Homo sapiens: one gene and its partners. The protein of the gene in region 3 interacts with the protein of the main gene of each other region in a biochemical or structural test. Each region holds a gene or a part of one and is shown on either strand. Other genes may lie near its edges.

The links.
Region 1: the proteins of ANXA5 (region 3) and COL10A1 form a complex in vitro, tested with the Homo sapiens proteins (one study listed by BioGRID).
Region 2: the proteins of ANXA5 (region 3) and KDR form a complex in vitro, tested with the Homo sapiens proteins (one study listed by BioGRID).

The regions. Positions count from the first base shown.
Region 1 is NC_000006.12:116,123,057-116,131,012, forward strand, and holds the start of COL10A1 (collagen alpha-1(X) chain precursor), read right to left. Parts: upstream 3,077-7,956; 5' UTR 2,997-3,076; intron 2,452-2,996; 5' UTR 2,437-2,451; coding exon 2,283-2,436; intron 1-2,282.
Region 2 is NC_000004.12:55,108,502-55,115,609, reverse strand, and holds part of KDR (vascular endothelial growth factor receptor 2 precursor), read left to right. Parts: intron 1-198; coding exon 199-329; intron 330-567; coding exon 568-736; intron 737-1,344; coding exon 1,345-1,484; intron 1,485-2,128; coding exon 2,129-2,306; intron 2,307-4,841; coding exon 4,842-4,956; intron 4,957-5,043; coding exon 5,044-5,207; intron 5,208-7,108. UniProt on the Homo sapiens protein: Tyrosine-protein kinase that acts as a cell-surface receptor for VEGFA, VEGFC and VEGFD. Plays an essential role in the regulation of angiogenesis, vascular development, vascular permeability, and embryonic hematopoiesis.
Region 3 is NC_000004.12:121,693,949-121,701,830, reverse strand, and holds the start of ANXA5 (annexin A5), read left to right. Parts: upstream 1-4,850; 5' UTR 4,851-4,968; intron 4,969-5,206; 5' UTR 5,207-5,241; coding exon 5,242-5,250; intron 5,251-7,882. UniProt on the Homo sapiens protein: This protein is an anticoagulant protein that acts as an indirect inhibitor of the thromboplastin-specific complex, which is involved in the blood coagulation cascade.

The DNA of each region.
Region 1 (7,956 bases), on a different chromosome or scaffold from region 3:
ATGGGTTGGAGGAATAAAATAGTGGATTTTTTAAAATGCCAACTATGTTAGATTGAGCTTTGCTTTAGAATCTGATTATAAGGGTCATGTTCACACTAAAAATAATTGTCTTAGTCTGATTGGAAATCTGTTTTACTATTAAAAAGGAGAAACAAGTCAATGGAAATGAGTGCATTGGGCGTCATCCGAGACTGGAACTCCAGTGACAGGGCGAACTTTGTCACTTGGAATGTTGTCCTAATGGGTCTCAACTTCTCAGTGCGAGAAAGAATTTGGCTTCTATTGAATGCTTGGGGGACAGCCCCTGTTTGTAGGTTGTCATCTGAAAAAATTTTCTTCATTCAAGATTAGGGTGGCACAATCCTCAAGGTAAAACGACTACTTCCTTCTATTAAGTTTTTTAAATGCCACAAACTGAAATCGTGATTGGTTGTGTCAGAATGTGGCACGTGCATCTGCCCACCAGCTGTGGAATCCTCTGCAGCATAATTTAGTATGTTTTGACAGAACTCTTTTTTAACCTGTGTTGGATGGATATGCCTAGGAATTATGTAATAACTCTTTGAATTCCTGTTTCAACTTAATGTCTTACTTGTATAGACTGTGGGCTTTTGTGTTTGTTATGGTGCATTAATGTCTGCCAATGGATGATAGTGTAGTTGAGTGTCTATCTAAAAAGAGACTAAGGTGGATTTAGTAGTTTAAATACAGCTTCTGAACTTTTCATTTGTTAAGATATTTTCATTTGTTCTGCAAAAGTAGCCAAGATAATGGTGTATATTAAGAGAAGATCAAAGTATTTTTAACCTTCTAAAATAGTGCATTTTCTTTTTAATTCAAGACTTTGTTATGCTCTTATTAAGGTGTTAAAAAGTCTGATTTTTGTGATCATGGAAACTATTGAATCCAGTGCTGTTTGTCATAGCATTTCAAATTGTGTTTGTTGCTTCAAGTAAAGCGGAAGGTTGCTTTGTCTTTTATTTTTTTCTTTACTAGCCTTTAAATTTTAAAATTTTTATTTATATTTTGAGACATTCAAAAGTATCTGTTGTATACCTGTGCATTTATTTTCAAATATTAAGTTTCCTTTTGTGAAATATTTTAAATTCCATCTTTCTTCTTAAAAAGACAATTCTATAAGTTTCATTGCTCAAAATGGTTGTTCCCAAAAGCATAATATTTAAACTTTATAACAAATATCCTTAGCTTTATTTACAGTATAAAATATATAATTAAAAAATTATGGAAAGGGAGTTTGAAGCCTACAGTCAGTTTATATTATTCTGTAGATATTTTATAGGCGGTCGTGTCAGTTGCTGTTAAATAAAATTAGTGAATATGAGGCCTAGAAGTTGCCCTCCTTTGAGAACCTTAGTGCTTTACATATATTATCTCAGTAATCTTCAAAGAGTAACCAAGAAAACTGGACAGGTAAGCAACAGATTCAAGAAGAAAGTTAACTTATTGAAGGCTATATTAGTAGCTAAAAGTAGTAGAAATAAAACTAGGAGTAACAGAAGTAGTAGTAGAAGTAATAGCAACACTTAAAGCACTTTACAGGTATTAATTCATTTAAACTTCGCAGCAGCCCTTGAGATAGCTGCTCCTTATTTTACAAATGAGGAAACTAAGGCATGGGAGGACAAGTAACTTACCTCAGGTCACACAGCTTATGCATTACAGTTAAGTCTCTGCATTTTACCGCTAAACTATATTCAAAATGTATAAGTAATTATGAGAATTGCAGTTTCATTTGCCTGCTTGGCAATTCTCATAATTACATTTGTTCATTGTTGGGGGGGAGGCCATCAGATTTTTTTGATAAGACTCGGTTTTATATCTGTTTGTGGGCTAGTTGAATTAGTTTTAAAAGTAAATGTTTAATATTTAGCTAAATAAACCAGCTACCTTCTTTATACAATTGGCAGTTATTTTTAGCTTAAAATTTTTAAACTTGATTAGTTTTGATTAGATCAAGATTTCTGGATTACATGCAGTTATTTGTGCAAAAGCAGCATCTGAGAAAAAAATTTGTACACACAAAAGTTCTGATTTTTTGCAGGTATATCTTTCAACTATATTTTCAAGTATATCCTTTCTACTACACTTATTGGATATTCTTGTTCTACTTTTTTCACAGATCACTTTGTTGTAATAATTTGGGCTAATTCAGAAGTTGGAAAGTAACACCAAAGTTAAATGCATTTTGTTAAAGAGATTATTAAGATTATAGAAAGCAACAAGCAACTTGTTAATAGAACAAAATATACAATTCAATTTACCTTTACTCTTTATGGTGTAGGGAATGAAGAACTGTGTCTTGGTGTTGGGTAGTGGGCCTTTTATGCCTGTGGGCATTTGGTATCGTTCAGCGTAAAACACTCCATGAACCAAGTTCAAGGATACTAGCAGCAAAAAGGGTATTTGTGGCAGCATATTCTCAGATGGATTCTGAAAAACAGAAAAGAATAACTTTATACAGCATTGTTATTAACCTATTTTTTTATTCTCATGTTTCACAGATGAGTTCTTTATACAGTTATCTACTTTTTTAACCTATCCTATATATTTTTAATATGTGCCATAAATAAATGAGAGATCATTTTTTAGTTATGTGAATATATGTCTTAGTTATTTTTGGAAGCTATACTCAGGTAATCAAGTGAAAATAAAATGATTTACCTAAAGGAAAAGAAACAGAAATTAGGATTGGATGTCTGTATTAAATAATCTAGGATCTTTGACATAGCCTGAAATATCTAATAGTTTCAAAATACACTGAAATTCGGATTAGGGCAAATTTTTACAATATGGTTTTATTGGGACTATCATCCACAGACTGATGCAAAAAGAACTTTTGGAGTGCATTTTAGTAGAAACCCATTTTTTAAATCACTTTAATACTTCTAATACTTGAGAAAACTCAAGTATTTAAATCTTTAAAGTTTCTTTCCAAGCAAGTTAACATGGAAGTCCACCAGTAAGCGTACGCTTACCTGCGTGCTGGGAGTTCCTGGAGATGGTGCCTTGGCAGCTTTCTGAAGCTTCCTCTGCCCAGATGAGCAGTGCAGAAGGTGCCTCTCAAGAGCTGTTCAGTGGTATTTATACTGTTTTTCCCTTACTACATGAGGTTACCCTGAGCTTAAGCTCCTCCCCTCAAAGTTGGTAAGCACTAATTATGGTGGAAAGTTCTATTGGGTAGGCACACAAGATCGGGCTGGGCTCTCCTTTTCCTTGTTTTCTTATTTAAAAATAAACCCATTGTCTTAAATATATATTAATAGTTTTAACCAAGGACCGTCTTTGTCTGTGATTCTATTTTATTAATTAATACTCTAGTGTTCAGGCTGGTTCACGGTGGAATGATGATACCCCCTTTTTATTTTTGAAAAGCACATTCTTATGTTAATTGGTTGATATTATATAATATGTGGTAGTACATAAAAGCGGATAAAATTCCTTGAAGGGGGTACTGGATTTAGACCATCATCTAAATTATTGAGTTATTACATAAAGTTATCAATGTGTCTATTAATATTCATAAATTTTTGTGAAAATAGCTGACCCCAATTCTTAATTACTTTTAGGCTTTTAGGATTTAGATCCCTTATTCACAACACTACGCTATATTCAGTAAATGACTTCAGATTTTCTTGCTTAAATTTGGGTTTACTTTAGAGTTGCAGTAGAGTTTGCAAAAACCCCTTAATTTGATAATCTCATATTATGTTAATTTACATAAGATTGCTGTGTTTATTTCAGGAGAAAAAAATTTTCAAACTTTGCTTTCAGCTTAAAAAAAATATTATTGGCTTAACTTGCAGTTAGGAATCATCCCAATTAGAAACACTTTCCCTCAAAGGTGGAAGTAAACACTATTGTTGTCAATTTTGGTAGTTAGACTCTGTTTAACAATATTAGGAAGCCTTTAAAATCAGTTTTTAGGATCCTAAAAAATCTAATAAAGGTGGGAAGTTGAGAGTCCAAATTTTTCATCTTATTTAATTTCATCGTTTTGAATCAAAATCAAATTGACTATGCAGGTGAACTGGTTGAGGAGGACAATTCCATACACAGGCATAGACACATCATTTTTCTACCTCCACAGAATTAAAGTAGTATGGATTCAGGACTAATCAATAATTGAAATAATTGAAAGTTTGACCAGTGAATGAACTAAAGATTTGTCCTTTTTCTTTTCCCTTTCTCTCCCCTTCAAGCAATTTTCTGTATTTTAAACAAAGCCTTGTATAGCCCTTTATGGAAATGTAAATGGATAAGGCATCTCATTGCCTCTCTCCTCTTGCTTGTAAGCATTTTGTTGATTGCCATATTAAAAAAATTTACATTGTTGTATATATCTCTGTATAATACTCATAGATACATATAAAATATGTTTCTTATAGCAGTTTAGAATAACAAAATAGGAAAGTTTATAATTCATCATTTGGAAATTATATATGGAATAGCTTTTGTAATTATAATATGTACTCTGCTACATCTGTAGGAGACTACAAAAGATAAGTGAGAGAAAACACCTGCCTTTTGGCTTATGGCCCATTTGGACACAATTTTGAAAAAGTAGGTGAGGTAACTTTATGGATGCTTTTGAATGCTAGGTTGAATTTGTTTTGAAAGGAATTATTAAAATATATATTTTAATATTTTGTGTGTATATATGGTGATACACATGCACACACATACTGCTATTTGCTTATAATTGAGACTGATACCCTGTTAGTTATCACTCGTGAACGTTCAGAAGACTAATTCTCAGCTCTTAATACATAGTGCTATGCCCCTGTGTATACCATTTGTTCATCTGTGGCTATTGCAACAATTTTCAGAGCCTTTCACTTTAACCTCTCTGGGTGTCTGTTTTTTATCAACACAATGAAAAGTTTGGACTAGGTGGTTTCTAAGCTCCTCCCAGTTTTAAAATTAGATTATTCCTGTGCTTGAGGTATTCTGCTGTTCTCCATGGTCAGATGGTAGACTTGGCTCCAGTTAGTACTTATTAGAGACACAAAAAAATCCATACCAGGAGGTTGTATGTCTTCTTTTAGGGATATGTAAATATATGTGGGTATTTGTCATTCTATACTCCCCTTTAGTTTTGGAAAATGTGGTGTCCTTATTGAATAAGCCTTGGACATTCAACCCTTTTTGCAAATAGTGTACTTATTTCAGCACAAGGAATCTGACTGCTGTTTGCTTTGTTAGTCACATAAGAAGCACTGTCTTGTCCAAAACAGATTGTAGAATCAGAATATTTTCTAGCCACACCCCACCCAATTGTGTATTTAAAACTATTTTTACTCTGGGTGTTTACTTGTAGCTGTTTGAAGTGACTAGTCTGTGGCTTTATGAAGGAAACCCATTCCACTCAAAACAGAGAGCCATACTCTTTAAACTCTATAACCTGAGTAATTTTTTTAAATATCAAATATGAATAATGATTTTTTTCACATCTGGCAGTTAGCTACTATTAAGCTTGCCTATTCATTTGTACATCTGTGGATCGTTAATTAATTCACCTTATGTTTCTTAAGTGCTTCTTAAGTGTTAGACATTAAGATAAATACTGGGTGAATAATATATATTCTATACCCTTAAAGTGTTTACACAGTGGTTCTCAGCCTCTTTTCCCCACTCCTGCTGTCCTGAGGGAAATGCACAATTCCTTCAGCCTTTGAGGTTCATTAAAATAGTGGTGGTTCAAAGACTATATTTTCATGAAGCTCCTCAGGTGATCATGATGGCCTCCTAAGTTAGAATGTATAGTCTGATATCAGTGTTCTATTACCACCTTGTTAATATTAGTTACATTGGTTTTTGTTATTTGTGTTCATATGCTTTTTAAACTTTTTTACAGAAAACTTGTCTTTTATAGTAGTGAGAATAGTTACAATAAATGCCTATATGCCTGTCATTCAAACTGATCTCAACTCGCTGTCACTCAATTCTCTTTTCATTCACCACTCCTTCAAATTTTGAAGTAAATCCCATATATTGTACCAATTTACCTGTGAATATTTTGGTATATTTTTCCAGAAGAGAAGGAGTCTTTTTTCTTTAAAACAATGTCATCATCGTATTAAAAAATCAGCCATTTCTTAATATCATCAAATCCTGTAGTTCACATACATATATAGACATGTATATACACAAACATATGTATACACATGTCTATATTATATAGAAACACATACATACATATCCACATATATTTTTTATTGATTGATAAATTGTTTGTTGAAATTAGGTTGATTCATATATCCCTGTTGTCATGGTTTGAATGTATCCCCCAAAGTTCATGTGTTGGAAACTTAATTCTTAATGTAACAGTTTTGGCAAGTGGGATCTTTAAGAGGTGATGAGGTTGCGAGGACTATGCCCTCATAAATGGATTAATGTTATTGTGGGAATGGGTTAGTTGTTGTGAGAGTGGGCTTTATATAGAAGCAAGCTCGGCCCCCTTTTGCTCTCTTGCACACTTTTGCCCTCTTTTGCCCTTCTGCCTTCTGCCATGCGATACTACAGCATGAACGCTCTCTCCAGATACCGGTGCCATCCTCTTGGACTTCCTAGCCTTCAGAACTGTGTGCCGAATAAAGCTCTGTTCATCATAAATTACCCCGTCTGTGGCATTCTGTTATAGTAGTGTAAAATGGACTAAACCTGTTACTCTAGGTGTCTTGTGTCACTTTTTACTCCCTTGCAGTTTATTTGTTGAAAAGCCGTGTCATCTGTCTCATGCAATTTCCTGTGATCTAGAATTTGTTGTCACTTAACTTGCTACTGTGGAGATTGGTAGTTAAATCTAGAGTTTTCATCTGATTTCAGGTTTGAGATACACACATTCACTCACACACAGATACAGCACACACAAATACATTTTTTGGCAAGAACCCTTTACAGAGAGTGGTATGATATACTTCTGTTAGGAAGCCCTTAATTGCTGGTGTCTCTTTGGTGTTACTGGACATTGGTAATTGCCTACAGTCAATATTTTATTATAGGTTATAAAATGATGATATTCTGATTTTATCATTTGTATTTTATTTATTAGCTAGGATATTCTCTATAAAGAAAAACACCCCTTCATCAACTATTTGATTACCCTGAAGTACAGTGTGTATAGAAAAAGCAGGAGAAATGCCTTTACCAGCATTTAGAACAATAAGCTGCTCCCAGCATCCTCCACAGGTGTAGTGAGGAAAGTGTGTGTGTTTATCATTATAAACATTCAGTTTATAATGTATTGTATGTGTTTCAGTCCGTGGCACTTATTAATCTTACTATTGTTCAGAATTTTTTCCCCATTTTTGGCCAGTGAGAGCCTCTCCTCTACCAGTTGGCTCCTGAGTTCTTTTGACCATGATCCCAGTAGTTTTTTTTATAGCTTCTTTCCTTCTAATGTTTTGTACCTTTCGTGGCCCAGATCTACAATAAGACATTTCTCCACAGACTCTTAGTTTCTTTTGTGGGAAATAGAAACCACAGTCTGAGTGCCTGGATGTCTGGGTCCTAGGGATGCACATTGCTTCTGGGTTGGTCATTCTATCTAGTGAACAGCTAAGAAACGTATGCACAGGGTGTTCATTAAATATAAGATATATGATAACATTTTACTGATGTAGCCAATGCACATTCAGGACCACAGGTGTTTACTTAATGACCTCAATCTTGTATCTGTAGCTGCTTGGTCCCATGCTAAAAACCCTAGTACTCATGCCAGTAATATAGTTATTCATTTGTTTATTCCATGATACTCACAATTTCTCAAAATAAAAATACCAATATTCGTACCAGAATATTGAAAAAAAATATAAGCCGTTTGATTATGTTTGCAATTCTTTTGGTATTTTCACTAGAGCTGCATTACTGTGCTGTAAAGTCACATGACACAGTTGATTCAATGTGGTAATACTGCCCACTCAATTCACTGTTAGG
Region 2 (7,108 bases), about 67 Mb from region 3:
AAACACACACACACACATACACACACACCCTCATGTAGCACAGATATCTATCAGCAGAATAATCTGTGGATGCCTTTGGTTGTGTGAGGTGTCCCTTCCAGTCATTCACTTGTCTGGTTAGAGTTTAGGAACCTGAAAAATGACCAACTTTTCTAGTAAATACTATTAACTCATTAATAAAACTAAATTTTCTTCTAGATTACAGATCTCCATTTATTGCTTCTGTTAGTGACCAACATGGAGTCGTGTACATTACTGAGAACAAAAACAAAACTGTGGTGATTCCATGTCTCGGGTCCATTTCAAATCTCAACGTGTCACTTTGTGCAGTAAGTTGCATCTCCTCCAATCGTCTCTTAAGTTTTTATAATTTTAAGCTAATATTAAGATGGGTAACCTGTTTATAATATTCACAATGAGTTTTAAGGATCCTTTAGGAAGGGTCAAATGCAATGAATAAAACTAATTAGTATTCTTAAAAATAAGATGAATTCTTCAGTGATCATTGTACATGGCTCTCATTTTTGGTACTGGATTAAATATTTGATATGTCTTTTTATTACCCAGAGATACCCAGAAAAGAGATTTGTTCCTGATGGTAACAGAATTTCCTGGGACAGCAAGAAGGGCTTTACTATTCCCAGCTACATGATCAGCTATGCTGGCATGGTCTTCTGTGAAGCAAAAATTAATGATGAAAGTTACCAGTCTATTATGTACATAGTTGTCGTTGTAGGTAAGAGGACATTTCCTTTCCATATCATTAATAACATATCCTTGTATTAAGATCTTGGAGATAACAACATAGAGTGAAGAAGGATATTGAAAAGTATAGGAACTCAGGATATGGTGTTGGGCAATTCATCTGCTCTTCTCTACCAAATAAACCCATGTGCAATTGAGGTTGTCTCTTTTCTTGCCAAGATTAAGGAAGAAAAAGAAAACTTTTTAAAAAAAGGATGAAAGCGAATGGTATTACTCGAGCACATTTTATGAAGAATTCAATGTTCAGAGCATTGCTTGCTATCAATTATTTCAATTATGACTATTTTATGGAAACTTCAGCAATTTGCTAAAGCTGGCCCTACTGGCCTAGGGCTACTGACCACTGAAAGTTTACTACTTTTCTGTCCACTGGGTTACAACATCTTTGAGATCTGTGAAGGTAGTGCTTTGTAAACCTCTGTTGGCCATTTTCCTGGGAGCTACCAAGTATTGGTGAGGCCTGCAGGGAAAAACAATGTGGCATGTTTTAAAGTTGCATTACTTTAAAAAATAAATCTGTGCAAAGTTATAGGCTTATTTGCTCTCTCATGTTCTGTTTTTTCAATTTACTTGCTCTAGGGTATAGGATTTATGATGTGGTTCTGAGTCCGTCTCATGGAATTGAACTATCTGTTGGAGAAAAGCTTGTCTTAAATTGTACAGCAAGAACTGAACTAAATGTGGGGATTGACTTCAACTGGGAATACCCTTCTTCGAAGGTAACGCTAATGATTCAAAGCCAGACCTCCAAATACTTAGATAATAAGCCCCAGTGAAGTTTGCTTGAGAGATAGGGGCCTCTTTGGCCAGATAAAATGTAAGAGCCTTAAACACACACACATACACACCCACTCACACACACATACACACACACACAATTTAAGGGAATTGCAGAACAGATAGCACCCACCAAAAGGTGAAATACCAGGAATTTTGTCCTATTCTGCAATAGCCAGGCTATGAATATTAGTTTTCTCTAGGTGATTACATCTTTCCACATTATGTCATTTCTCTGTTCTCCAAAGTTTTTGATCTACATTCCTTTTAAGGGAATTTCTCTTTAAGAGGTGGCATGAGATACACTGCTCCTTAAACAGTGGTCACATTTACTTGTGTTTCTGCAGTTTATATCCATCTCACTTTCACCACGTGAGGTTTTAAAAATCCTAATTCAGTTGGTTCCATTTATTTCTCCTGAAACAAAATATATTTGTTGTCTGCATGAGGTTAAAAGTTCTGGTGTCCCTGTTTTTAGCATTAAATAATGTTTACCAAAGCCCAGATTTAATTCTGTGTGTTACTAGAAGTTATTGGGTAATGTTATATGCTGTGCTTTGGAAGTTCAGTCAACTCTTTTTTTCAGCATCAGCATAAGAAACTTGTAAACCGAGACCTAAAAACCCAGTCTGGGAGTGAGATGAAGAAATTTTTGAGCACCTTAACTATAGATGGTGTAACCCGGAGTGACCAAGGATTGTACACCTGTGCAGCATCCAGTGGGCTGATGACCAAGAAGAACAGCACATTTGTCAGGGTCCATGGTAAGCTATGGTCTTGGAAATTATTCTGTGCCTTGACAAGTGAGATAATTTAAATAAATTTAGGTCACTTAGTGATTCCTATTTTGTTCATTCAGAAGATAGTTTCTAGTTTTTCTTGTTAGGGAGGCCACATGACCTAGAGGTCAAGAGCATAGCTTTGTAGTCAGGAACTTGGGTTCAAACCTCAACTTTAAAGATGAGATGTGCTGATATACAGTAAGAGTTCATTTAGTATTACTTATTATAGTTATTGCTGCTATTAGGATTGTTACTATGATAAATAGTATTAGCTAAGGTAGTTTTTAAATTTTCATTTTATTGCAAGGCTGAGAGGCCTACTTGAATAAGCATGAGCTTTGCAAACTGGGGAAACATTTAGCAATATACAGTTGACCTGTGAGCAACTCAGGGATTGGGGGAACTCAGGGGAGTTCCCCTAACTTTCCCTCCTCTGCAGTCAAAAATCCATGTATAGGCCGGGCGCGGTGGCTCACGCCTGTAATCCCAACACTTTGGGAGTCTGAGGTGGGTGGATCACCTGAGATCAGGAGTTCGAAACCAGCCTGGTCAACATGGTGGAACCCCATCTCTACTAAAAATCCAAAAAATTAGCCTGGTGTGGTGGTGGGAGCTTGTAATCCCAGCTACTCAGGAGGCTGAGGCAGGAGAATTGCTTGAACCCAGGAGGTGGAGGTTGCAGTGAGCCAAGATCGTGCCATTGTACCCCAGCCTGGGCAACAAGAGTGAAACTCCTTCTCAAAAAAAAAAAAAAAAAAAAAATCAAGGTATAACTTTTGACTTCCACAAAACATAACTAATGGCCTACTGTTGACTGGAAGCCCTACTGATAACATAAACAGTCAATTAACACATATTTTATATGTTATATGTATTATATACTGTATTCTTCCAATAAAGCTAGAGAAAAGAAAATGTTATTAAGAAAATTGTAAGGAAGAGAAAATATATTTACTATTCATTAAGTGTAAGTGGATCATCATAAAGGTCTTCATCCTTGTCTTCACGTTGAGTAGGCTGAGGAAAAGGGGGAAGAGGAGGGGGTGGTTTTGCTGTCTCAGGGGTGGCAGAGGTGGAAGAAAATCTGCTTATAAGTGGACTCATGTAGTTCAAGTTTGTGTTATTTAAGGGTCAACTGTAATTGAACTGGAATTAAATTGAACTGGCCTTGAGAAAATCACCTTAATTTTTTGTTTATTCTCTTTCATTTACATAAATGTCTGAGTTTACATGGTAATTTGTGTGGCATCCTACTTATAAGCCTTGGAAAGGATTTTGGAGTTTATATTATGAGAATGCATCAATACAGTGAAATTTTAAAAATACCTTAGATAATGCTATTTATTAGAGTTGTAATCATAAAAGTGGCAACAACTATAACAAGTATGATTTAGTGAGCACTTACTTTATTAGCTCATCTCATCTTTGAAGCTGAGATTGGAACTCAAGTTCCTGACTACAAAGCTATGCTCTTGACCTCTAGGTCACGTGGCATCCCTAGCAAGAACTTGAAAATTTCTTCTGAATGAACAAAATAGAAATCACTAAGTGTCCTAAATTTATTTAAATTATTTCACTTGCCAAGATGCACTTGTCAAAATACACAGAGAGAGATGTGCTCTGGCTTATGTTTTTATAGAATTACTTTTGTTTTCCAGAATACTTCAGGGAAATAGGGGCAGAAATAAGGAGGTCAGTTGGGAGGCTAATTGCAGTTATCCAAGTGAGAGTTGAGGGGTGGCTTAGACAAGGGTAGTTGAGGTGGAGGTAGTGAGAGGTGATCTGCTTCTGGATATATTTTGAAGGTAGAGTCAACAGGGTCCGCTGATCAATTCATTGGTTGTGGAGTATAAGAGAAAAAGAGTGGAAGATGACTCGAGCGTTAGCATGAGCAACTGAGTAAATGATGGTGTTATTTACTGAGATGGCAAAGATCGAGAAGGCAGTGAGATTTAGGGAAACAGTGTTAGATATGTTTATCTGGAGATGCCTGTTAAACATCCAAGTGGAGATATTTAACATATCAACCCGGAACCCAGAGGAGTCAGGGCAGAAGATAACACATTTAGGAGGTACGTGAATGATACTTTAAACCTGAGGCTAGAGGAAGGTGTAAATAAAGAGGAGGTCTGAGGACTGAGTCCTGGGGCCTCATGGTGGAAGAGGTGTGTGGAGGCTGTCATGGGAGCAGAGGAGAAGGAGCACCCAAGCATCCCTGGGGGACTTAGAGAAAGCTGCACAGAGGAGCAAGTGTTTGAGTTGAGACTTGAGCAATCACTAGGCTTGTGGGAGTGCACTAGCGGGGAGAGAAAAGCAAATGCAAACACAGGAGGTGTGGGAGAAACACGGGAGGTGTGGGAGAAGCTGAAAAGTGACCCACTGAAAGATAGTACAGGAAATCTTGGAACTGCAGCTACTCAGACCCTCAAGGTCTTTGACGTTTCACTTGAAATGAAAAACTAAATCAAATGACCATTTACAGTAAGTTGACCTTTTTTTTTTTTTATTTTCTTCCAGAAAAACCTTTTGTTGCTTTTGGAAGTGGCATGGAATCTCTGGTGGAAGCCACGGTGGGGGAGCGTGTCAGAATCCCTGCGAAGTACCTTGGTTACCCACCCCCAGAAATAAAATGGTAACTACTGGAAATAAATGCAAAGCATCATTTCGTGTGAGAGCAAATCCTTTGACTATACTAATTCCTGAGAATTTTTTTTCATAGGTATAAAAATGGAATACCCCTTGAGTCCAATCACACAATTAAAGCGGGGCATGTACTGACGATTATGGAAGTGAGTGAAAGAGACACAGGAAATTACACTGTCATCCTTACCAATCCCATTTCAAAGGAGAAGCAGAGCCATGTGGTCTCTCTGGTTGTGTATGGTGAGTCCATTCAATTTTCCTCTCTGCCCAAGATTTATTATGATACATTGTCTTCCAAATCAGCCAAACCACCGTTCCTCTGCCTCCTGCTGCTTCACTCATATCATGGCTGGGCCTGCGTACAAAAGTCATCTGGCGTGGTGAAGCTGAAGTGAAACGTAGGACCATGTGCTCTGGCCATGTTTGTTTAAGAGGCCGTGTAAATGAGCTTTGTGGTGGACAAATGCAAGATTAAAGTAGTGATACCCTCGATAGCTAAATGTTGTGAAATAAGAATGCCCACAGGGACAGTTGTCAAGCTAAGTTATACTACCATGTTCCCCTCTCATGGAATTGCCCACCTGGTACACAGATGTGTAAGACCCTTCTCCTTAGATTTTGTGCAAAGCTTCTAGTTTGATGTTGTAGTTGATGTATCAGAGATGTGCAGGCACGTTCCAACTCTGAAGGCTTTTGAAGTTGACACTGTTGGCTTGGTTGGGAGCTTTTCTTTTTTCCTTTTTGACAGGAGTTCAGGATCTGATTTTGAGTCTGTAAAGGAAAGATAGTAAGTTTTTGATGTAAAGATAATTTGAACTTTGTTTTCTGAAACTGAAAGGTACAAATAAGTGTTTGGAATGGAGTGGGGAGAAGGGTGCCATGGTCAAGTGAGTGTGAGAGGTGCTAAGGTGATGTGTAGATGTGTAACAGGTTTCTTTATTGCAGGACTTCGCAGAACCTTTTATATGCTAATGTATATTGGTATTCTCCAGGAGGAGAGACATAGAGTATTCAAGGTTTAACAAACCTATTTGACCAGAGCACCTTTTTTCCCCTGAGCAAATTCATTAATCTCTCACTCCAAACAGTTTGAGAAATGCTTCTCTGTTGTAATTCTTTGTTCCCCCTTCTGGTACGGCATATTAAAACTTCAGGATATTTTCCCATGACATTAAGGTGCTTCCCTACGTGTCCTGATACTCTTCTGTAGGCCGCTGAACTTGGCTTTATTATTTTTTTTCAGGGAATATTTTAAAGATAGGCTGGGTGCCGTGGTTTGCATCTGTAATCCCAGCACTTTGGGAGGCCGAGGCGGATGGATCACCTGAGGTCAGGAGTTCGAGACCAGCCTGGCCAACATGATGAAAACCCGTCTCTACTAAAAATATAAAAATTAGCCAGGCATGGTGGTGGGCACCTGTAATCCCAGCTACTTGGGAGGCTGAGGCAGGAGAATCACTTGAACCCAGGAGGTGGAGGTTGCAGATAGCCGAGATCGCACCATTGTACTCCAGCCTGGTGACAAGAGCAAAACTCCGTCTCAAAAAAAAAGTTAACAGGTTCCAAAAAGGTTGTTTAGAAGCAGCATAGGTGTAGGGGACTGGGGAGAGGAGAAACTGGAAAGTGTATAAGTAGGATGGGAGGAGGAAATGAACAGGAAATAAAAACAAAACACGGACAGCAAATAGCCCATTTCATCAGTTCATGAAGCCACTAAATATTTTATTCACTTTAGCAAATTCTCTGCTATATGAAATAAACATAAAAAAGAAGTCAAGTCTTCAAAGCATAATCTGAGGCTTTAGGTTGACAGTAATAAGGAAATAGTTTTGACTTTGGAGTCAAAAAAGAAAGAAAGGAAAAAGGGAGAGAAGAAAGAAGGAAGTGAGAGAAGGGAGAAGGAAGAAAGGGGAAGAGGGAAAGGGAGTGGAGAGGGAGGGAGGGAGGAAGAGGGAGAGAGAATGAAAAACTCAGATGATGGTGGCAGGAATGCATTCTCTAAAGATTTACACCTTCCTTTAACATGAGGTGGTTTACGTGTTTGGGTTCAGAAGTCAGAGTGTCTAGGTTTGTTCCAGGTTTTGCCGTTCGTTAACTGAGTGACCTTGGGCGAGTCATTTTTTTCTGTTTCATTTTTTTCT
Region 3 (7,882 bases):
TGGGACTTTAAGACATGAATGAGTTGAGGGCAGATAGGTGACTTGAATTAAATTCCAGGTGACGGTTTTACAGTTGTTGGCACCAGCAGATGGGGATCAGAGGGCCCACGTGTGGAGAGAAGGGTAGAGGGTGGGGGTCTAGGCTAGTTGTATGTTGATAGGGGCCATCGATGGTAGACTCTGGATGAGGCAGAATAGGCGGGAAGAAGGGGGAATGGCACCAGGAAGCATCAGGTTGGCCCCCAAGAGTTGGACCTGCCGTCTCTGAGAGACTGGCTGGCAATAGGTCCTGCTGCAGTGGAGCAGTGGGTCCAGAGGAGGTTATTTTTGCTTTTAATATGAAGGTGGGTCCTTAATCATCAGAACAGGAACTGAGAATGATGGTTAGTGTTTCTGAAAGAAAAAAGAGCCATGGGGGAATGGAATCAACCCTTTTTCACAATTTGTTAGGCAGTTTCACAAATTAACTTATTTGAAACTAGCCTCCACTCTAGATAAGGAAGCCAAGGATCAGAGAAATCACATAATTTGTCCAAGTCACATCCCTGGTATGCAGGCAGAGTAGGGATTTGAACTCAACTGTCTCTGTCTTCAGAGAGTGTGCTTTTTCCAGATCTTGCCTGGAAGACATGATGTTCCTCCTTTCCCTTTGTATCTAGCCCCTACTTTACTCCTCAGCCACTCTCTCGTTTCTTCTGCTTCATGCAATTCATTCTCCTGCCATCTTTTCTTCTTCTTTAACTTGCCATAATTTGCAATAGATATATTTATTAAACAAAATCAATTTTTAAAGTAGACTGGTTGAAAATGTTATAATTTTCTAAAAAACAAGATTCCAATTCCTCTAAAACTAAAGAAGAGTTGTTTTGTACTTATTTATAAAAAGCCTGTAACTCATTTTCTTTTCTTTATGTGTCATTATAATCAAGGGAAACAGTAGGGCCATGAATATATGATCAAAATATTAGAGTTGAGAGATGTAGAAACTGAAACACAAAGAAGCTCAGCGACTTATTTAGAATAAATTGGCTAGTTCCTGAATGATCCAAATAATTGAGAGAAATAGGGAAAATCCTGAGTTAACAAATAAATACAGTTTCAAAAGTGTGTTTGTAAATTAGTTCTCTGGCATTTGGTATATTTCTCTAATAAAAAGAAAATTGATGTGACCTGAGTGTCTCATAGAAAACAGCTGAAACTCATTATTTATATCTAAGAATAGTATAAAAAACTCCCCACAATTATTATGTAGTACTTATAATGAACACAACACAAAGACAATACACTGAGAAAGAAGGACTTTAATTTTTAAATGTGTAAGAAGAGAAAATTTAATTAGAAAGATGAAAGACTTAACTGGCGAATCCGGCAGAGATTCTAAAGATGACATTTGGACACTGATAAAGGCCATTGGGGGATGAATGACAGACACTTGTTTTTAAGAGTGTGAAAGCTGTCCTTATCAAAATGGAGTCAATTGTGTTAAAAAACGAGACAAATCCCTGACAAATGGCTGGGGAAGGCCATGAAGGGAGGGTTCTAATACATAAATGCCTGATAACAAGAACTATTGAAAAATACTGCAAAAACCACAACTTTGGACAAAGGCCATTGCAACCACACACACACACACACACACACACACACACACACACAGAGAGAGAGAGAGAGAGAGAGAGAGAGAGAGAGAAAATGAGAACTTCTGCGGAGACATCTGCCCAGCAACTGCCTGTACAACATTAGACTGGTGCCACTCTAGTTATTGATTACTGTAGCCAAGGATAATTATCTCAAAAACAATGATGTAATCTTCCTTCTTCCTTGAAAAACCTTTGCCTTCCTTTACCTCCCTGAATACGCAAAATAGTTTAATATGGCACACATATTCCCATTGCAATGCCCATTCCCAAATAAACATCATTTTCTTTTAGAAAGTCTCCCTCTCTGTTTGTTATTAGGCTGACAAGAGGTAGTGAAAGAGATTTCCTGAGTGCCTATCATTTATATCACTCAGTAGTTAAGAACATCAGTTGTTCAAAATCCATCAATTAAATACACAATTCAAAGCAGAATCTTTATGTGGCAATCTCTCTTTATTCTAAATAAGTCGCTGAGCTTCTTTGTGTTTTAGTTTCTACATCTCTCAACTCTAATATTGTACCTTCCACTCCAGCCATTTTAGACAGTTCAAATCACACAGACACAAAGAGATACTTTCCTTCTCTTGGTTTTGCAGTTCACTTAACCAGACCACCCTTTCTCCCCTTCATAGTTTGATAAAATATCCTCTCTCAAAAGCCTAATCCAAATGCTATGTCAACCATCTGACAAAATATTAGCTCCTTCCTCTGAAACTAATTGCATTTTGATTGCATTCTAGGCATTTCTTTCCTGATTTATAGTCTCTCATTGTAGTGTTCATATACATGCTTTATCTATAATATTAAGGTGCAAACTCTTAGGTATGGCCTTTCCACAGGTGCTCAGTGTATAGTTGTCAAATACAATTAAATTGTATCAATTTAGGTTTCTGTTCAAGGCTTCTCAGAAATGGCTTCATATCACCTTTGCAAAATAAGTGTTCCCTTCATTTCCATTCCCTAGCCTTTATTTTCTTTATACCACGCATCACACAGGACATATTAGATACTTGTTTATTGTTTGTTTCCTCCACCAGAATGTATGACCTATGAGGGCAAGGCCTTTGTTTCACTTGCCGTGTTTACCCCAGCACCTAGATCTGTGCCTGGTCCAGAGTAGGAGTTGAATAAACTGATATTACTGGAAGTGAAAGAAATGCTACCTGGAGTATTTCAAGACTCTGAGTCCAATAACTCATCGATTTTGTCAGTATTTAGCTGCAGGACATAGAGCAAGTCACTAACCCATGATGAGTCTCATGTCCCTGTAAAATCAATGATTGTTAAATACAGGATCTCTGAGGTCCTGTTTAACTCCATTAATGTGAGAGTAGAAAGTGAGAGAAGCAAACTGAGTTCAAGTGGATATGGGTGAGAAAAAAGAATGCTCTAGGCAAGACTACAGGTCCTGCTTTTGGTGCAGGGCAGAGAGAAAGTAGAAAAGCTGGAGCAACGGAGACAGATGCTCAGAAAAGGGCTGCCTTCAGATATATTAATACCTGTAAAGAAAACCCGGGGGAGGTGCTGACTTGGGGAGAGCCTGAGGCTGAGTAGACAGCTGGGCTGGTGGAGAGGAGGCTCCCAGAGGAAAGGCAACCCGCCAGTGGGGTGGGGGTGATGGGGTTGGCAAGCTCCACAAATTTTGCAATTTTGCCTCCTTTCCCAGAGAACAACCACTCTGTTGTGACTTTGTCAGGGCTGGAATAGGCATGTGGTTCACACGTGAAAGCGAATGAGAAGTTCTATACAAAGAACCACATTTGCTGTCCATTTAATTTATTCTTCCTCATTCTCAAAGAAGACTAGATCCTCATCTCTTACCCTTAACCTCCACGTTGAGAAGCACTTTGCCCTTCCCATTCTAGCATATGTCTAGAACACTGCATCTAGTGTCGCAAACTTGTCCTCTTGCCCCCTCTGCCCTGGCACCTTCCCTCCCCACACCAGTAAGTCTGAGAAGGTCCCTGTGTCTTCTACTTTTCCTTTTCCAGCATATGGAGACAAAAGTGATTATATCCCGGATGCTAATCCGCCATGTTGACCTTTAATAACCCCAGTCCCATGAATACCTCCTGATTCCTAGGATTTTTTTTTTAAACTGTCCTTAGCATAAGAACATGTCAACCTTGATGCTATTGCCCACATTGTAGGCTATGAAGCATACGGCATTCTCACCTGTTCCGGAGGGCTGCCTTTAATTGTCTTGCACAGAGCAGTATACTCTTTCCTTACGGTATATAAGGCCAGGGTCTGGGGAGTAACAGTGCAGAAATTTATCTGCTTGCCGCCGCCCAAGGCCACGCTTCTGTCTACCACATCCTCCAATAGCACCCCTATTACCTACAGACTGGATTTGTCTGTCTCGTTCTTTGGTTTCTTGACTCCTTCGCGTTTGGGGGCTGCTTTGCATATAAAGCCCTTTCACAGAACACAGCACCATGCTAGTACAATACGCTGTAGATTCTCCCTCCCTCCCCCTCTCTCTCATATACTCATATATTTTATGTTGAACCAATATGAGGCATTGCTCAAATTTAAGTCATATTAAAGTTCTAGGCTAGTTTTGAAAACAGAAACTGATTGGAAGCAGAGGTTTTCAAATAGCCCACATACGCTACTAGAAGGCTGTACATTTAAGAGAGGGCCATCTAGGAAGCAATAATAGGCATTAAAACAACAACAAAACAACAAAACAAAACAGAAACAAAAACAACTTGGGAAACGGCCCTCCTTTCACGTTTTTTCTATCCCATCGACAAAGGCGCGCTGTCCTTAGCTGCGATGATTTTGTCTCGCCTCCAAAAAGACGCCCACGCACTATGTTGAGCACCCAAGTGAGGCTACGGTTCCTGCGGTCACAGAGGGCAGGGAGGCTCAAGCACCTCCAAAACCCCGAGCCCTGGACAGCTCCCCAGGCCCTTCCCGCGGCGCGAGGACAAGAGGTCTCCGGGGCCCTCGGGGGAGCGGCGCCTCCTCCTGGTTCCAGCAGCTCTGCGGCCGCTCCCCACCCAGGCCCGCGAGACCAGCGGGACAGTCCGCGCCGCGGGAGACCAACTGGGACGAGCCGCGACCCACGCAGGCGCGCTGAGGCCGGGGCAGGGGCGGGCCCGGCTGGCGCGGCCGGCCTGCGGTTGGGGCCCTGGCGGGGGTGGGACGGGCCAAGCCGGGCAGGGCCGGGGTGGGGCCGCTGGCGTTTCCGTTGCTTGGATCAGTCTAGGTGCAGCTGCCGGATCCTTCAGCGTCTGCATCTCGGCGTCGCCCCGCGTACCGTCGCCCGGCTCTCCGCCGCTCTCCCGGGGTTTCGGGGCACTTGGGTCCCACAGTCTGGGTGAGTGGTCGCAGCCCGGGGAGGGGGCTCCTTCTGGAGAGGAGAGCGTGGTCGCGGGGCACTGGATTCGCGCGGACGCTCGGCCGAGAGCTGTCCCGGTAGCTGCGAGAGGGCGGGTCGGCCCCGTGGCGGGGCCCTCCGGGCTGTCTGAGCGCCGCCGGGTCCCCGCGGACCTGCGCTTGGGGAGGGCACGAGTTGCAAATGGCGCGCTAAGCCCGAGGTTTCTTCTCTTTTGCAGTCCTGCTTCACCTTCCCCTGACCTGAGTAGTCGCCATGGCACAGGTAAGGCCGTGCGCCCCCCACTGCGCTGGATTTACCCACAACTTTGTATGCTGCGACGAGGGACTTTTAGGATTTGTCTGAGAGCCAAAAAGTTTAGGAGGAAAGGGAACCTGCTTTGGGGACATCGCTTCCACTTTTCTTGTTCCCCCTTTGCTTCCCTGCCCCCGTTTCTGTGTCCCGGTTCTTCCCGCTGAGCGCCCTCCGGAACCAGCACCGACGCCGCCAAGCTGCCTTCGCGCGCAACAGCTGGTGACGTGGCCGGATTTGTGTGCGCTCCCTTTTCATGAGTGAATGTGTAAAAGTGGGCCTTCCCCAAAATCCAGAGAGTAGCTCAAATTAGAACCGGAGCAAGAACAGCTCATCGTGGTCATGTGAGGCGAACGCATTCCCCCCCCACCCCGCCCCCCGACTTCCTTTATTTTTTTTCCGCAAAGTTTTCTGTATTTTAATACTGTGATTGAGCATTGGCTTTTTCCAGTTGCTCAGCCCAGTTTTACTAAAACTGTAGGACGTAGGCTCTGATTTTTTTTTTAATCCAAAAGATTAAACACAAGCGCTGTTTTTCTTAAGCAATGAACTCGTGGAACGAGTTCTCAATTGAATTTGCCTTGGGACTGTTTCAGAAATTGATAATCTACTACAGGCTTTCTTTACTGTTTTTTTTTTTTCCTTTTTTTTTGAGACGGAGTCTCACTCTGTCGCCCAGGCTGGAGTCCAGTGACGTAGTGATCTCGCTCACTACAACCTCTGCCTCCCGGGTTCAAGCAATTCTCGTGTCTCAGCTTTCCAAGTAGCTGGGATTACAGGCGCCCCACCATGCCCAGCTAATTTTGTATTTTTAGTAGAGGCGGGGTTTCACCATGTTGGCCAGGCTGGTCTCAAACTCCTTGCCTCAAGTGATCCTCCCGCCTCGGCCTCAGGACTGTAATCCCACTGCGCCTGGTTTCTTTACTGTTATTAATGTTTATCAAAAATGTAGGAAAGAGAAGATAGTTTAAGGTCTTTAAATATTGACCATGTTATACAGTCTTTTGTGAATAAGATACCAGGGCTTAAAAACTCTAAAACTGATTTCACAGATCTTGTCAATCTAACCGGCTTGTCAGAGTCCAGATAGTTTTTTTTAAACAAGTGTTTTAACTGCTAAAACAATGCTGTCTCTTATTTATAGTTCACTTTTTATCAGATTGACTTATCAAAATTGAAAAAGGTTTCTTGGTCCTTTCCAAGTGAAAATGGGAGGATTAAGATTAGTTGATTACTTTATGAAACTTACACAGTGATCCCATTCTTACCTCCTCTTTTGCACTTAAATGTTACAGTAAACCAATTCTCATATTACTTCAAGTGGAAAGTTTGGTTTAAGTTCTTCTCCATAGAAAGGATACTTTTATGTGGAATTAACTTTCCTGAGTAATATTTTTCCTATCTTGATATGCTGGTGTGGTGATGTACATGAAGATTTAACAAGCATCGAATAATAATTCCCTCTATCTTTGCTCATTTAGCAGTTTCTTGAATCTCTTGTAAGTTCCCCAGTGATGTCTGAGGGTCCATCAATTCCTTTTCATTATGTAGACTGTTTACCCAAATAGTATAAGCGAACATATTTTCCAGTTGTGGACATTAATTTTAATAATTTCAAAGAATGATTAGTATCATAAAGGCCATGTGTATAGAAAACCTAGGAGAATGGTGGTTTGCATATAAAATTATGTACCTGAGCCCTATGACAATATAACACCAAGACTGTTTTCTATCAAAACTACAGTTTTTACTAATCATAAAAGTTACAAGTAATGTTTTAAAAAAGATACAGAGTGTTAAATTTTGTTCTAGTTTTGTTACTATTTTTGGAAATCATGAAAGTAAAACATTTTGTTAAAATATTTAGTATTGGCCAGGCATGGTGGCTCATGCCTGTAATCCTAGCACTTTGGGAGGCTGAGGCACGTGGATCACGAGGTCAGGAGTTCGAGACCAGCCTAACCAACATGGTGAGACCTCGTCTCTTCTAAAAATACAAAAATTAGCTGGGCATGGTGGTGCACAACTGTAATCCCAGCTACTCGGGAGGCTGAGGCAGGAGAATCACTTGAACCCGGGAGGCGGAGGTTGCAGTGAGCTGAGATCGCGCTGCTGCACTCCAGCCTGGGCAACAGTGAGACTACGTCTCAAAAAAAAAGTTTAGTATTAAAGTTGGGTGCGGCGTCTGAGCAGTAAGAATGTCATGAAGGCAAAACTAGGCTACGTAATTGTTCATTAGAAGCTTCATGAACATCAGAATTTTTTTGTTTATTTTTTATTTATTTTTTATTATATATATATTTTTATTATACTTTAAGTTCTAGGGTATGTGTGCACAACATGCAGGTTTGTTACATATGTATACATGGTGCCATGTTGGTGTGCTGCACCCATTAACTCAATATTTACATTAGCTGTATCTCCTAATGCTATCCCTCCCCCCTCCCCCCCGCCCACAATAGGCCCCGGTGTGGGTGTGTGATGTTCCCCTTTCTGTGTCCAAGTGTTCTCATGAACATCAGAATTATCTCTATGGTATATGTTTAAGTTACAAGGTTTGATCAGAAATATTTTCGGTTGGTTTAAAATTATTATAATAATTTAA